Regions from separate parts of the Homo sapiens genome. Here region 1 is linked to region 2. Evidence: fine-mapped expression QTL. Tissue or cell type: whole blood. Region 2 holds a variant in brackets; the other region holds the start of a gene. All regions are shown on one strand. Distances are between the middles of the regions.

Evidence for each region. PIP is the estimated chance that this variant, and not a neighbour inherited with it, causes the effect.
Region 1: it holds the start of EGLN2, and the variant in region 2 is fine-mapped to the expression of EGLN2 in whole blood (TOPMed, PIP above 0.99).

What each region holds. Positions count from the first base shown.
Region 1 is chr19:40,794,325-40,802,399 of GRCh38, reverse strand. It overlaps EGLN2 (egl-9 family hypoxia inducible factor 2), which reads right to left and starts at 3,209. Exons shown (of 6, transcript NM_080732.4): 1 at 3,138-3,209; 2 at 985-2,061. The coding sequence starts at 1,827. It overlaps RAB4B (RAB4B, member RAS oncogene family), which reads right to left. Exons shown (of 8, transcript NM_016154.5): 8 at 5,458-5,830. MIA-RAB4B (MIA-RAB4B readthrough (NMD candidate)) reads right to left here. Exons shown (of 10, transcript NR_037775.1): 10 at 5,456-5,830. It overlaps RAB4B-EGLN2 (RAB4B-EGLN2 readthrough (NMD candidate)), which reads right to left. Exons shown (of 12, transcript NR_037791.1): 8 at 985-2,061. RefSeq lists enhancers at 1-595, 774-1,448 and silencers at 2,872-2,921, 3,072-3,431.
Region 2 is chr19:40,828,636-40,836,714 of GRCh38, reverse strand. No RefSeq gene overlaps it. Among named protein-coding and RNA genes, the nearest start is that of CYP2A6, 18 kb to the left of the region's middle. The variant G/A (reference allele first, on the strand shown) is at 3,908.

The DNA of each region.
Region 1 (8,075 bases), 34 kb after region 2:
GAATGGAGGGCAGGGACTGGGACAGTGAAGGGTGGGAGACATGGGGATGAGCTCCACCTGGGCCAACAGGCAGCCACCCAGTACCACCCCCAGGAGACTGTCCTCGATGCAGATGCCACAGTGGGGACCCAGGGCACAATGCAGTCCAGGGCCAAGCACTCGGCCCAGCGGGCAGCACCCCTTTCCTTCCCTCAGCCCAGGGCTCACTCATCACAGCCACCCTCCCCCTTCTGCTTCTCCTGCCTTGGAGACAGGATGGATGGACTAGAAACATGGGCCAGCAAACAGGGATGGACGACAGGAGCACAGGGAAGGATGTGGACAGGGACAGACAGCAACAGAGAACGGCCAGGTGAACTGTGTGCCTATCTACATCCCCGTGCTTGGTCTGGGGCCACAGACTGACACCAGGAGGCCATGAACCCCACCAAGGTCCACGCTGTGAATGTCAGCAGCTCTCATGAGTTTAAGAGGGTTCCTGGCAAAGTCAAGAACCACTGTGGCGATGCTTGAAGGCAGCATGCTCGTTAAGAGTCATCACCACTCCCTAATCTCAAGTACCCAGGGACACAAACACGCAGAAGGCCGCAGGGTCCTCTGCCTAGGAAAACCAGAGACCTCTGTTCACTTGTTTATCTGCTGACCTTCCCTCCACTATTGTCCTGTGACCCTGCCAAATCCCCCTCTGCGAGAAACACCCAAGAATGATCAATAAAAAAAGAAAAGAAAAAAAAAAAAAAAAAAAAAAGAACCACTGTGGCTCCAGGACAAACTCCTAGCTTATCAGGTGCACACATTAAGGCCCGTAGGGAGGATAAAGACCCCCCCAAGTCCCCACAAGTAAGCATACCCACTCCACTGAACTGCCTAAACCTTCTGTGACCTCCCAGAAGCCTGTCTCCAAACCCACTGTGCTCAGAGCACTGAATGCTGCAAACCAGGGTGCTGCAAAGCCCCTCCAAAGAGGCCCCCACCTAGCCTTACCTTGGTGCGCCCGTTGATGACATAGCTGCCCAGCCGCCCTGCGCAGTGGCGGATGACGGCGTCCACATGGGCCATGAGGGCACCAATGCTTCGACAGCCTGGTTCATGGCCTTCCACCCAGGCAATCTGGTCCCCACGGATGCTGCGCGGCGGGATCGCCCTCTGGCTCACTAGCTGCCCGTCTCGCAGGCGCCCACCCCGTTTGAGGGCCTCCACCTCGGCCAGCACGCGACCGCCCAGTGCTGCCCCCAGGAAGCTGTCCTTGACGCAGATGCCGTAGTACCGCATGCAGGGCACGATATAGTCCAGGGCCAGGCGCTCGGGCGCAGAGGGCAGCGCCTCCTCCATCAGCCCAGCACTGGCCTCACCACTGCCACTGCTGCAGCTGCAGCTCATGCCACCCTCCCGCTCTGCCTCCTGGTTCTCTTGCCTGGCCCAGGGCCGTTTGCTGGGTGAAGGGGCATCCCCACCATCCTCGGCCCATTTCCGTTTGGGGGCCTCAGGCCGTGCGCCCTGGGCTGCCAATCGCTGGCACCCCTTGGTGACCAGCGCTGCAGCGCCTTCACTCTGCAGCGGCCGCAGCTCACCACCATCCTGCCCGCCAAAACCGTCCCGAAGAGGGCTGGCAGTGGTAGAGGTGGCTGTGGCTCTGGGGGTCCCACTCCCTGCCGAGGCCTCACTAGGCACTCCTGGACAGTGGTAGGAGGGGAGCAGGGGACAGGGCAGGTAACTCTCCACTCCCATCCTGGCCCGGCCAGGCTCAGGCTCCAAGGGCTCTGACGAAGACCCTGGTAACTGAGGGAGAGCCTGACTTAGGGGCTGCGGCTGGCACGGGCTGTCCATGGCAGCAGTGTCTTCATCCCCCGGGCATGGAGGGCACCGCCCGGGCCCATGGTGCCACCCTCCTCCGCCTCCTCCTCCGCCTCCACTTGATGCAGCTGGGGGCCACCGGGCCTGGCGTGGGGCAGGGTGAGGCAGGGCAGACAGCAAGAGCTCTTCTCGTGCCCTGGGGGTTGCTTGCTGGTCCCCAAGTCCTCTGCGGTCCCTAAGGGCTTGGGAAGGGACCCTTCAGGGTGGCTAGAGAAAGGAAAAAAAAAAAGGGATGTGAGAGAAACTAGAGACAGGCAGGCAGGGGAAAGCCGGGATGGTATGGGCAGGAGTGGGGAAGACGACCAGGACAGACTTGACTATAGAGGCCCCCCAAAACCTGAGGCCAAGTCGGGGAGAGGACCCTGAGAATCTGGAGGTGCGGGAGTCCGCTGACAGATAAGAGGCAGTGATAGGGAGAGGCTGGAGGCCAGGGGCTGGGTAGATGACCCTAAGACAGAGGACTGTGGTGCAGGTTGTGGGACGCGGTAACCAAAGACAGAAGAAGGAGGGCTGGAGTAGAAAAGGGTGGTGTGGAGGAGTGGGAAAGGAGGGGGTTTGGAAAATAGGAGGGACCTGCCTCGGCGTTCCAGAAAGACAACGAGAAACGTGGGGGTTCCAGGGAGAGTCAGGGTGGGGGCGGGGGGGTCAAAAGACAGAGGAAACTGGGGAGTCCAAAAACAAAGAGAACGAGGGGCCCAGAGACAGAAAAATAGACCGGAGGGAAGCTGGGAGGGAGGACCCGGGGCGGAGCGGGACGGTGGGGTCGACCCGAGCCCGACGGGAGGAAGCCGGCCGGGGGCGGACACACGCCCAGACGGAAGGGAGGTCCCGAGACTGACCGACGGGAGGGGCCCTCGGGGAGAGGGTCCGCGGCGACAGAGGAAAGGACGGAGGAGGGTGCACGCACCCGGAGACAGGACGAGAGATAAAGGTGCCCCCATCCAGGGCACCCCAACGCCCCCAACCCGGGGCAGGCCCTGAGGCCCCTTCTGAGCGCAGTAGGCGACAGGGGCAGGGCCTAAGGGCCGCTCGGACCCCCTCCCCTCCCCCTCCACTCGGCCTCCGCCCGGCGCGCGCTCCCCGCCCCCACCCCAACCCCCACAACGGCCGGCACCCAACGTAACCGGCGCGCGTCCCCTCCCCCGCGCCGCACCCACATCCCCCTTCCCGGGGTCGCCCCGGCAGGCCCCGGCGCGCGCCCCCACACCCCGCCCGGTTCGCGCCGGCGCCCCGGCTCCGGCTTAGTCTCCTCCCGCTCCCTTCTCGCCCCGCGACCTCCTCACCGAGCTTTTTCCTCCGGCCCCGGCGCCGCCGTTTGTGCCAGCCGCCCTGCGCCGCACAGCGCGCCATACCCCGCCCCCACCGCGCGCGACGCCCCGCCCCGCCTCGCCCGGTGGGCACGTGACCGCGCCCCGCGGAGGGGACGGCGCCTGCGCAGGCCCGAGCCGCGCGGGGCGGGGCGGAGCGGGGCGAGGAAGTTCGGGACAACCCCCCTACCAAGGAGAAAGGAAACAGCGGTCCGTGGCCTACACGAGGTTCATTTGCATCCTCCGCCCCGCCCCCTTTGCGCGGGAGGGGGAACGCAGTGTGAGGGGCCGGGTCTGGGAGGGGGCGTTTCTTGCATGTTGGAATCAAGTGGCGTCGGCGGGGCGGGGCACGCAAATGATGTGATTTACATGGACAGGCCTACCCGCCCCCCGCCCAGCGCGGGGCACCGAGTTCGGCAGCGCGGTGCGCGTGACTTCATTTACATGGTCAGCTCCTCCTCCTTCTCGCCGTCCAGGAACGGAGGTGAGAGACGGAGAAATGGCTACGCAGTTAGTTGAGAAATGTATGTAAATTCGCACGTCAGTAATTTACATAAGTATCTTTTATAACGGAGGCAAAAAAGTGCGGGTTGCCCTTGAGAAAAGGGAACGCGGACTAGAAGGGATGTGCAAATGTGTATTTTCAAGACCCGCTCCGGCCTGCCCCCTCGGGACGATTGTGGGAATCAGAATAAAGAACCAGGGAAAGTCTGGGCAACGGAGTGAGACCTTATCTTTACACAAAATTAAAAAATGAAACAAAAAAAAATCCACGGAACGCTACACAGAGAAGACATTTGCATGGCCAGCTGGGAACACTTTAGGAGACTAAGGAGATAAGGTCATTTTGAATGCCCTGCCCGCTCCACCATTGCTCTGGAGAGCTGGGACTCAAGGCTCCCGCCGGGTCGGTGAAGGCCGACGTGGAGATGGGAGGGCGACGAGCAACTGGGAGTGTCCTCGGGGCTGCACCAGTCCCCTGCAGGCCACCTGAGGGCGTAGGGCGGTTCGCGTGAGCACAAGGGCATGCATACTGGTATCCACACATGCGTGAGGATTGCACAAAAGCCCGCAGTCCTCAGGGCACACACAGGGTTCATGGCCACACAAGGGTGTTTCTAGTTTAGTTTTGTTTTTGAGATGGGGTCTTACCCTTTTGCCCAGGCTGAAGTGCTGTGGCATGATCATAGTTCACTGCAGGCCCAACCTCCCAACTAAAGTGATCCTCACACCTCAGCCTCCGGAATAGCTGGGACTTCAGGTGTGTACCACGACACCTGGCTAACTTTTTCTGTTTTTTATTTTTGTAGATAGGGTCTCTCTGTGTTGCCCAGGCTATAGTCTCCAACTCCTGGGCTCAAGTGATCCATCTGCCTTGGCCTCCCGAAGTGCTGGGATTACAGGCATGAGCCACCACGCCTGGCCACACATGGGTGTTTAAAAGGAGCCAAATTCACACCAAAACACACACAGACCTCGGGGTACACATGCACAGGCACACACGCAGTAGTGAGTCACTGCCTCTGACTCTCAGGCATCAGACATGCACACACCGGAGGCCCACCTATAGGTCCAAATTCCCATCCCCTGGCCTTGATGTCCCAAACAATACCAGCCTCACCAATACAATGACCAAGGCCACAGAGCAGTTACGGCTGTCAGCATCACACACAACCAGCACACATTATATCCTATAGACATCATCCCATATGCAGGTACTGGAAACATGTACACATGTCACAAACACAGGGACATCAGCGTGTTTACACACGTGAGCTTAGAACACAGATTGTCACAAACTGTCCACACAGTAACAAATTCCCTCCCTCCGCAACAGGCACCTGAGTCATCATGCTTGGTATACCCCACACCACGTCCAATCAGGAAACAAGGCCCCCAAGGCCAGGCCCAGTGGCTCACACCTGTAATTCCAGCACTTTGGGAGGCCAGCGCGGGCGAATCACCTGAGGTTGGGAGTTCGAGACCAACCTTGACCAACATGGAGAAACTCCATCTCTACTAAAAATACAAAATTAGCCAAGTGTGGTGGCACATGCCTGTAATCCCAGCTACTCGGGAGGCTGAGGCAGGAGAATAGCTTGAACCCGGGAGGTGGAGGTTGTGGTGAGCCAAGATCACGCCACTGCACTCCAGCCTGGGCAACAAGAAGGAAACTCCATCTCAACAACAACAACAAAAAAACAGAAACAAGGCCCCCAAACACCATGACACATGATTCTTCCATCAGGGACCTCTTCCATCTCCCTGCCATCTCACAATAATGGAGGCCAAGACACAGGTGTAAACAATGCTTTATGGGGGTAGGGTGGGTGCTGGACAGGCCTCCAGGTAATAAATAACAGGTACTAGCAACAGCAGGGCCAGATGGGGAGTTGGGGACAAATGACCCTGGTCTCAGGCTTTGGGAGCTCTTGGGGTATGGTTAGGGGTTCAGGGGGACAGACGTTAGCCAAGACAGAGGAAGCAGCAGCAGGTACGGGATTCCCCCTTCCCCCGTGGCTCAGTCTTGCCCCAAAGCCAGGCCCCACCAGGCCAGGGAAGGGGGACAGGTGGCAACGTAGCTTCTCCGGGGCCAGGGCAGGTTAGGACACGGCCTCTCAGAGCCTGGGCCTGGGCCCCAGCAGGGCTGGTCCTGGAGAACAGGTGAGCTGAAAGAGAAGGGTGTGGTGACCTGCAGGGTCCCCGGGGTCTGTCCAGCCGGTCTCTATCTCATTTCCAGGTATTTCCTTCCCCTCCTATCTGCATCGGTCTGTCCATACCTTTCTTCTCCCGGTTTCTACATTGTCTGATTTTCCGCCTCTCCCCTGCAGGTAATTTGGGGCTTGTGCTGAGGGTACCTGCATCTCCCTCTTTGTTTGCCTCAGAGAGCTGTCTGAGTCTGTAAAGCCACATTTCAACATCTAAATATCATGAATCTGGATGGACGCAGTGGCTCACGCCTGTAATCCCAGCACTGTGGGAAGCCAAGGCAGGAGGAATGCTTGAGCCCAGGAGTTTGAGACCAGCTTAGGCAACACCACGAAACCCCGTCTCTACAAAAACATACAAACATTAGCCAGGTGTAGTGGCATGCACCAGTAGTCCCAGCTACCTGGGGGGCTGAGGTGGGAACATCGCTTGAGCCTGAGAGGTGGAGATTGCAGTGAGCCAAGATTGTGCCACTGCACTCCAGCCTAGGCAACAGAGTGAGACTGTCTCAAAAAAATAAATAGGCCGGGCGCGGTGGCTCATGCCTGTAATCCCAGCACTTTGGGAGGCCGAGGCGGGCAGATCACCTGAAGTCGGGAGTTCCAGACCAGCCTGACCAACATGGAGAAACCTCATCTCCACTAAAAATACAAAATTAGCCAGGTGTGGTGGCACATGCCTGTAATCCCAGCTACTCAGTAGGCTGAGGCAGGAGAATCTTGTAAACCCAGGAGGCAGAAGTTACGGTGAGCTGACATTGCACTATTGCACTCCAACCTGGGCAACAAGAGCGAAACTCCATCTCAAAATAAATAAATAAATAAATAAATAAATCGGCCAGGCACGGTGGCTCACGCCTGTAATCCCAGCACTTTGGGAGGCCGAGACAGGCAGATCACAAGGTCAGGAGTTCAGACCGCCCTGGCCAATGGTGAAACCCCGTCTCTACTAAAAATACAAAAATTAGCCAGGCGTGGTGGTAGGTGCCTGTAGTCCCAGCTACTTGGGAGGCTGAGGCAGGAGAATCACTTGAACCCAGGAGGCGGAGGTTGCAGTGAGCCAAGATCACACCACTGCACTCCAGCCCGGGCAACAGAGGGACACTCCATCTCAAAAAATTTAAATAAATAAATAAATAAATAAATAAATAAATAAATAAAATGAACCTGCCTTTGTATCTTTCTGTGTCCCTCTATGTTCCTGGATCACCCTGGCTCTAAGTCTCATTTCACTGTTCCCCAAGCTGGGGAGACAACGTTAGGTTAGTGGTTCTCACTTTGGTTGTATATAGCATTACCTGGGAGCTTCCAGAAATCCTGCAACTGGCTGGCTCACATCTTTTTTTTTTTTTTTTTTTTTTGGAGATGGAGCCTCGCTCTATTGCCTGGGCTGAAGTGCAGTGGCGCGATCTAGGCTCACTGCAAGCTCCGCCTCCTGCGTTCACGCCATTCTCCTGCCTCAGCCTCCTGAGTAGCTGGAACTACAGGCACTTGCCACCACGCCTGGCTAATTTTTTTTTTTTTTTTTTTTTTGTATTTTTAGTAGAGACGGGGTTTCACTTGATCTACAGATCAAGCCAGGATGGTCTTCATCTCCTGACCTTGTGATCCGCCTGCCTCAGCCCCCCAAAGTGCTGGGATCACAGGCGTGAGCCACCATGCCCAGCCTGGCACACGTCTTTAATCCCAGCACTTTGGGAGGCCAAGGTGGGAGAAATCGTTTGAGGCCAGGAGTTTGAGACCAGCCTGGGCAACATAGTGAGACCTCATCTCTATTTATCTTTTAATTAAGAAAAAGTCCTGAAACCACTTCAGAATCTCTAGGGTGAGGCCTGGGCATCAGTATCTTTTAAAATTCTCCAGGTCATTCTAATGTGTGTCACTGCCTTGGTGGGGAAATCAGTTTGGTGGGTCTTGACCAATTTTTAAATTCAAACAGAATAGCACAGAACGGCAAATACCAGAGTGCATCATATATAATAAGAATATTCTATTGGTTGGGCAGGCACAGTGGCTCACACCTATAATCCTAGCACTTTGGGAGGCAAGGGCAAGAGAGGATCACTTGGGCCCAGGAGTTCAAGACCAGCCTGGGCAACATAGACACCATCTCTACAAAATTAAAACATTATTTAAAAAAAAAAATTTTGTAAATAGGCCGGGCGCAGTGGCTCATGCCTATAATCCCAACACTTTGGGAGGCTGA
Region 2 (8,079 bases):
GATACCTATTGATCACGATGGGGAATGGAAATGGGTCCAGTGTGCTCTTGTCAATCCAGGAATTTTTCAGAGGAAGGGTTTAATATTGGTTGAATGCCCAAGAATCCAGGTTACATGGGAGGAACAAAGGGAGTGTGGGTTAATCATCATAATCCCAAAAATAGCACAGAAAGTGGGTATGGCCTCAGACATCACCCAAGGTGCTGAAAGGAATCGCCTCCCAGCCACAACACACCTGCTCTTTCCTCTCCAAACCACTAATGCCCATCCCAACTCCAGATTTTGGAAAGGGTCAACTCCCACTTTTAAAAATCCTGTTTAAAAGATACTTCTGGCTGGGTGTGGTGGCTCACACCTGTAATCCTAGCACTTTGTGAAGCCAAAGCGAGTGGATCACTTGAGGTCAGGAGTTCAAAACCAGCCTGGCCAACATGGTGAAACTCCATCTCTACTAAAAATACAAAAAATTAGCCGGGCATGGTGGTGCACATCTGTAATCCCACCTACTGGGGAGGCTGAGGCAGGAGAATCGCTTGAACCCAGGAGGCGGAGGTTGCAGTGAGCTGAGATGGAGCCACTGCACTCCAGCCTGGGTGACACAGCGAGACTGTCTCAAAATAAAATAAAATGTACTTCTGAGTGTGTTGTGAGTGTGTATCTGTGTCTGTGGGGAGGTGTGTGTGCACGTCTGTGTCTGTTTCTGGGATCCTTCTAATCTCATTAGTAGTAGCTTTTGTCTCCTTGGGATTTTATGTATCTGATAATATCAGCGATGAATAAAAGTTTTATTTCCTCCTTTTCAATTTGTACTGCATTTCTCTTTTGTACTTTACAGCAATGGCTATATTGTTTAATATGAGTGGTGAGAGTTGACATCACTGTGTTTGTTGGGTATGGAGAACCAGTCAGCCAAGAAAATACCTGTTAAGTACAATACTTTACATAGTTAAGAATACAAAGTATTGTTTTCATTTATTTAGCATCTTTTTGGTATGTTTGTCATTGAGGGAGTGGTAAGTGGGTATGAGAGTTAGTATAGAGGATTAAATGTGTAGGAAGTTATGACTGTTTTTATCCACTCATATATATATATGGGAGAGAAAAGGCTATATTTTATTATAGAGTAATGCATTTCTTATTTTCCATTGTTTGTTTTGCATAGAAAATTTCTAAAACTTAAAATAATACTCTCCATAAACCAATATTCTTCTGCGCTTTTTTTTTTTTTAATTGAGACAGAGTCTGCTGTGTTGCCCAGGCTGGAGTGCAGTGGTATGATCACGGCTCCCTGCAGCCTTGAACTCCTAGGCTCAAGTGATCCTCCCACCTCAGCCTTCTGAGTGGCTGACTATAGGCACATGCCACCACATCCAGCATCCAGCTAACTTTTTTTTTTTTTGAGATGGAATTTCACTTTCGTCACCCAGGCTGGAGCGCAATGGCCGGATCATGGATCACTGCAACCTCCGCCTCCCAGGTTCAAGCGATTCTCCTGCCTCAGCCTCCCAAGTAGCTGGGATTACAGGTGCCCACCACCATGCCCAGCTAATTTTTGTATTTTAGTAGAGACAGAGTTTCACTATGTTGCCCAGGCTGGTCTCAAACCCCTGACCTCAGGCAATCCACCACCCGCCTCAGCCCCCCAAAGTACTGGGATTACAGGTGTGAGCCACCACGCCTGGCCTAATGTTGTTGGTTGTTTTGTTTTGTTTTGGTAGAGACAAGGTCTCACTATTTCCCCAGGCTAGTCTCAAACTCCTGGCCTCAGCCTCCCGAATAGCTGGGGTTACAGGCATATGCCACCACGCCCAGCTAATTTTTTTGTATTTTTAGTAAAAAAGGGGTTTCACTGTGTTGGCCACGCTGGTCTCCAACCCCTGACCTCTGGTGATCCACCCCCGTCGGCCTCCCAACGTGCTGGGAACCAGTGCGCCTGGCCTAAAATCTTAAAAATAATAAAAGAAATGTTTAAATCCTATTGTGACGTTAATTGAAATCTGACCAGAGCCAAATAACAACAAAGTAATAATACTAATAACTAGCAACCCTCGTGAGTACTTATGTAGCAGGTTTTGGAGTTCCAGCCTAGTTTTGCCAAAACTCCTTATTTAATCCTAGGCCCCTGTCTCAGCCTCCCGAGTAGCTGGGACTACAGGTGCACACAACCACACCTGGCTAATTTTTGTATTTTTCAGTAGAGACAGGGTTTCACCACGTTTGACAGGCTGGTCTTGAACTCCTGACCTCAGGTGATCCACCAACCTCAGCCTCCCAAAGTGCTGGGATTACAGGCCTGGGGCATCATGCCCAGCCCAATTTTTTTTTTTTTTTTTTTTGAGACAAGGTCTTGCTCTGTCACTCAGGCTGGAAGGCAGTGGTGTGATCATAGCTCACCATAGCCAGGACCTCTTGGGCTCAAGCAATCCTTCCACCTCAGCCTCCCGAGTAGCTGGGACCACAGGCATGCGCCACAATGCCTGGCTAATTTTTTAATCTTTTGTAGAGACAGGGTCTCACTATGTTGCCCAGGTTGGTCTCAGACTCCTGGGCTCAAGCAATTCTCCTGCCTTTGCAGTGAGATAATTTAGGAATCAGAGAGACTGAGGGGTTGAGGAGGATTTCTTATTATTATTTAGGTGCACCGGCCCAGTCAGATCAACATCCAAAATGACTGAGCCCCAAACAAAGAGTCCAGTTACCTTTTAAGCATTTCTGGGGCAGGAAGAGATCTGTGCAGGGGGAAGCATACAACAGAAGCGAGAAACAAAGACACTTATTCAGTAGAGACATGCATTACATCATTTCTTACTTTTCAAGGAACGGCATATTTTACGACTTGAGATTATCTGTCTAGTGACCTTGCAGCTGCACAGCTAGAGAAACAGAGTCTTCACAATGCCTGGCAAAGGGAGAGATAAGGCTCCCTAGCCACAGAAAAACAGGCAGTTAATTTTAAAGGACTCCAGCTCTTTCTCTTCCTCAAGGGGAATTGGGTTTTCTTACGTAAGAAACTGAGCTTTTGCTTACAAAAAGAGCTCCAAAGGGAAAGAGCTGCTTACAGTGGCCTCAAATCATTGGCTGAATACAGAGCTGCACAGGCTGAGGGAAAGACTCCACAAAGCTGAGGAGAAAACAGCTACTGAGAAAAGAACGACTGCCGGCTGAGCAGCTGAGGGATGAACATTTTTTTTTTTTTTGAGACAGAGTCTCACTCTGTCACCCAGGCTGAGGTGCAGCCACGTGATCTCAGCTCACTGCAACCACTGCCTCCCAGGTTCAAGCGATTCTCCTGCCTCAGCTTCCCAAGTAGCTGGGACTACAGGTGCCCACCAACACAGCCAGCTAATTTTTAGTATTTTGAGATCACGCCACTGCACTCGAACCTGGGTGACAGAGTGAGACTCCATCTCAAAAAAAAGTAAATACATAAAAATAAAGCTGAAGATGTCCTCATTACCAAGGTACCAAGGTACCAAGGTAAGGTCCCAGAATCCTCCAATAGCCATGTTACATCTTCCTCCACAGCCTAGAATCTCCATGTTCATCCCAAACTTCCTCCCTCAGGACCTCCCAACAATACACATTTCCAAAGCCTCCTACAATAGAGGCCACCAAACTCCCATGTACACCAGATACCCATGTCCTGACCTCAAAACCCTTTCCTAATGAACTCAAATGGCCATGTTCCCCTACACAGTCTCCCTCAAGACAGAATTAGTGTGCAGGTGTCAGCCCCTTGTGATAGACAAGCAGAGGAAGAGCAGCAGTGGATCTAAGAACAGGTGAATGTCCACCACATGTCCTAATTGTGTGGGCTTGGCCTCCAGGATATCATCTTCTTCCTGCACCCTTGACTTTCAAGGAAGGAACAAATATGGAGAATAAAGGGGGGAGCCATAAGGAGGAC[G/A]AGGAAGATCTTAGGGACCTAGAAATAAAAACAGCACCTTCAAGGCGTTGAGCTTCCCTGTGCCTGATGCTGTGCTAAGGATAACTTTTCATGGAGTGTGCAATGCAGTCTTCACAAATCTGTGATAAAGGTTCTATGATCATCCACATTTTACATGTGAGCAAACAGAGTCAGAATCATTAAGATTCAACCACTGAAAGTACCTAGCACAGATGTAGTAGTCAGATCTGTTTGACTCTAGAGGCTATGCTTTTTTTTTTTTTTTTTGAGACAGTCTCACTCTGTCACCCAGGCTGGAATGCAGTGGCACAATCTCGGCTCACTGAAACCTCTGCCTCCCGGGTTCAAGTGACTCTCCTGCCTCAACCTCCCGAGTAGCTAGGATTATAGGCACCTACCACCACACCTGGCTAACTTTTGTATTTTTTAGTAGAGATGGGGGTTTCACCATGTTGACCAAGCTGGTCTTGAACTTGTGACCTCAAGCGATCCACCCTCCTTGGCCTCCCAGTGTGCTGGGATTACAGGCGTGAGCCACCACACCCAGCTGAGGCTATGCTCTTAACTACATTTACTCCCCTTCCTGCCCTTTCCCCTCAATCTGCAGACAGGGTACTAAGACCAACTGGGAAAAAATTCAAACTCCAGGGCACTGCCTGTTTCATAATAAACCACAGATCTCAAGTTTCAAACATTTTCCAATATGTGTTGGCAGCTTAGATGTCATTTGTTGACTCTTCTACCAAGGACGGGTGGGGGAAGGTAATAAGAAGCCCTAAAGCTGTGTCTGGTTTTGTAACAAGCACGTGAGTCCATAAAACCAAATGCCTGCATGAGATGTAATTGTCCACGTGCTCTCCCCCTTGGAAAGAGGCTGAAACCTTTGACTCAGTGATTCCTCAACATAAGGAATTTAGCAGATGTTAAAACCACAGTCTCTAATTCAAAATTTGAGCTATTAGGATCACTGGGTGTGAAATCATGGCCTCCAATTTTGTTGGTTGTTTGGGGTGGGTTTTTTTGTCTTTTTGAGACAGTGTCTTGCTCTGTCACCCAGGCTGGAATGCAGTGTCACAATCATAATTCACTGCAGCCTTAACCCCCTGGCTCAGGCAATCCTCCCACCTCAGCCTCCCAAGCAGCTGGGACCACAGGTGCATTCTCCCACACCCTAGTAGTAGAACTTTTTTTAATGTTTTTGTATAGATGGTGTCTCGCTATAGGGCCCAGGCTAGTATCCACTACCACCTCAGCCTCCCAGAGCAATCCTTACTCTCAGTTACGGTTTGTGGAACTATAAATTGGTACAGCTTCAGAGGAGAGTAATGTGAATGCTTTTCTCTAAATTACAAAAGAACATACTCTCAGATTCAGTTAACTCCACTTCTAGTAATGTCTCCTATGATGTACAAGAAAGTGTGCAAAATCACCTAGATTCATCAAAGAACTGTTTACATAATGAAAAATAGGAAACCAACATATGCACCAAGATATTGGTTAAACAAATTATGATGCATTCATTTGATAGACTTGGTCCATCAGAACCCCAGCAGAAAAATATGAGTGCTTAATGGAGGGACTTTTTTTTTTGAGTCGGAGTCTCGCTGTTTCGCCCAGGCTGGAGTGCAATTGCGCGATCTCAGCTCACTGCAAGCTTCGCCTCCCGGGTTCAGGCCATTCTCCTGCCTCAGCCTCCCGAGTAGCTGGAACTACAGGCACCCGCCACCACGCCCGGCTAATTTTTTGTGTTTTTAGTAGAGACAGGGTTTCACCATGTTAGCCAGGAAGGTCTCGATCTCCTGACCTCGTCATCCGCCCGCCTCGGCCTCCAAAAGTGCTGGGATTACAGGTGTGAGCCGCCGCGCCTGGCCAATGGAGGGACTTTTTACAAAGTGGAGGGCAGTGTGAAAGAACCCTACAAGACGTTGAAGCACTCTATGGCTTACAATAAGGAGACGCCATCATCATCCTTAGGTTGAAAGGTGCAGTGAGAGGGAGTAGTTTCCGAAACCGAGACTGATTGTATAGGGGTAAAAGAGAGCCCCCAGCAGGAGGGCATGGTTTCTGGCAGAGGAATACAACCATTGCTATCACACAGCCAAGCAAAATAATCTGACATTGCTCTTCTCTCAAACTTCCATTGGCCAAACCCAAAAATTTTTTTAATGTAGAGGTGAAGGGAGCATGGGTGGTACAGTTTATAGAGGCCACCCTTCTAAAAGACAGGTCATGGTGGAGAGTGGAGATGGTAGGGCAAATAGAATACCCAGCACAATGGCCAGGAGCTCACACCTCTAATCCCAACACTTTGGGAGGCTGAGGTGGGCAGATCATGAGACCAGGAATTCAAGACCAGCTTGGCCAACATGGCAAGACCCTGTCTCTACTAAAAATACAAAAAATAGCCAGGTGTGGTGGCACACACCTGTAATCTCAGCTACTCAGGAGGCTGAGGCCCAAGAATCACTTGAGCCCGGGAGGCAGAGGTCGCAGTGAGCCAAGATTGCCCTACTGCACTGCAGCCTGAAAGACAGAGTGAGACGGTCTTAAAAGAAAAAGAAAAAAAATTCCAACCCAACCTGACAGATACAGTGGATATAGTAAGTTACTATTTGTATATTTGTGTATGGAATAACCTGGAAACTGGTAACATTAGTATCAACTTGGCAAGGGAAACTGGGTTGAAGAAATTTCACTTTCCATCATTTTGTATCTTTTGAATTTTGGATAGTGTCAACATATTATCTGATCAAGGAGAAAAGAAATTTAAAAATCAGGTGTAAAGGGAGTGTACCTCTGCTTCCAAATTTAAGCCAAGAGCCACTGTGAAAAGTAGTTTGGTGATTTCTAAAAAAACTTAAAATAGAACTACCATCCGACCCAGCAATCTCATTATTGAGTATATACACAAAGGAATATCAATCGTTCTACCATGAAGACACGTGCACACCTTTGTTCACAGCAGCACTGTTCACAATAGCAAAGATGTGGAATCAACCTAAATGCCCATCAGTGGTAGACTGGATAAAGAAAATGTGGGCTGGGCGTGGTGACTCACGCCTGTAATCCCAGCACTTTGGGAGGCCAAGGTGGGTGGATTACGTGAGGTCGGTAGTTCGAGACCAAGCCTGTCCAACATGGTGAAACCCCGTCTCTACTAAAAATACAAAAAAATTAGCCAGGCATAGTAGCGGGCACCTGTATTCCCAGCTACTTGGGAGGCTCAGGCAGGAGAAGTCACTTGAACCCAGGAGGCAGAAGTTGCAGTGAGATGAGATCACACCACTGCATTCCAGCCTGGGCAACAGAGCAAGACTCTGTCTGAAAGAAAGAAAGAGAGAGAGAGAGAAGGAATGAAGGAAGGAAGGAAGGAAGGAGAAAGACAGAAAATGTGGTATATATACACCATGGAATACTACACAGCCATAAAAAGGAACAAGATAATGTCTTTTGCAGCAACATAGATGGAGCTGGAAGCCACTATCCTAAGTGAACTAATGCAGGGACAGAAAACCAGACACCACAGGTTCTCACTTATAGGTGGGAGCTGAACATTGACTACACATTGACACAAAAAAGGGAACAACAAACAGCAGGGCCTACTTGAGGGTAAGATGGGAGGAGGGTGAGGACCGAAAAACTACCTGTCGGGTGCTATGCTTATTACCTGGGTGATGAAATAATGTGTACACCAAACCCTCACCATTGCTGAAGAGACTGGCGGCTAAATAGAGCAGTGGGTGAAATGGTCCCTGAGTGACATGTTAGGTCTTTGTACATAATTTAAAATAATGTGGCAATATTAATTTTAAAAAAAGAGGAGTGCAGGAAGAGCCAGAGAGAGACAATGTGAGGATGGAAGCAGAGACTGGAGTGATGTGCTTTGAAGATGGATGAAGGGGCTTCGCACAAAGGAATAAAGGGGCGACCAGAAGCTGAAAAGGCGAGGAAATGGATCCTCTTATCAAGGCTCCAGGAGGTACCAGCCCTGCTGACACCTTGACTTTATCCCAGTGAAGCTGATTTTGGAATTCTGGGCCCCAGAAGTAAAATAATAGTTTGGGGTCTGTTTGTTTACTTGTTTGATTGTTTGTTTGTTTGTTTGAAATGAAGCTTCACTCTTGTTGCCCAGGCTGGAGTGCAGTGGTATGGTCTTGGCTCACTGCAGCCTT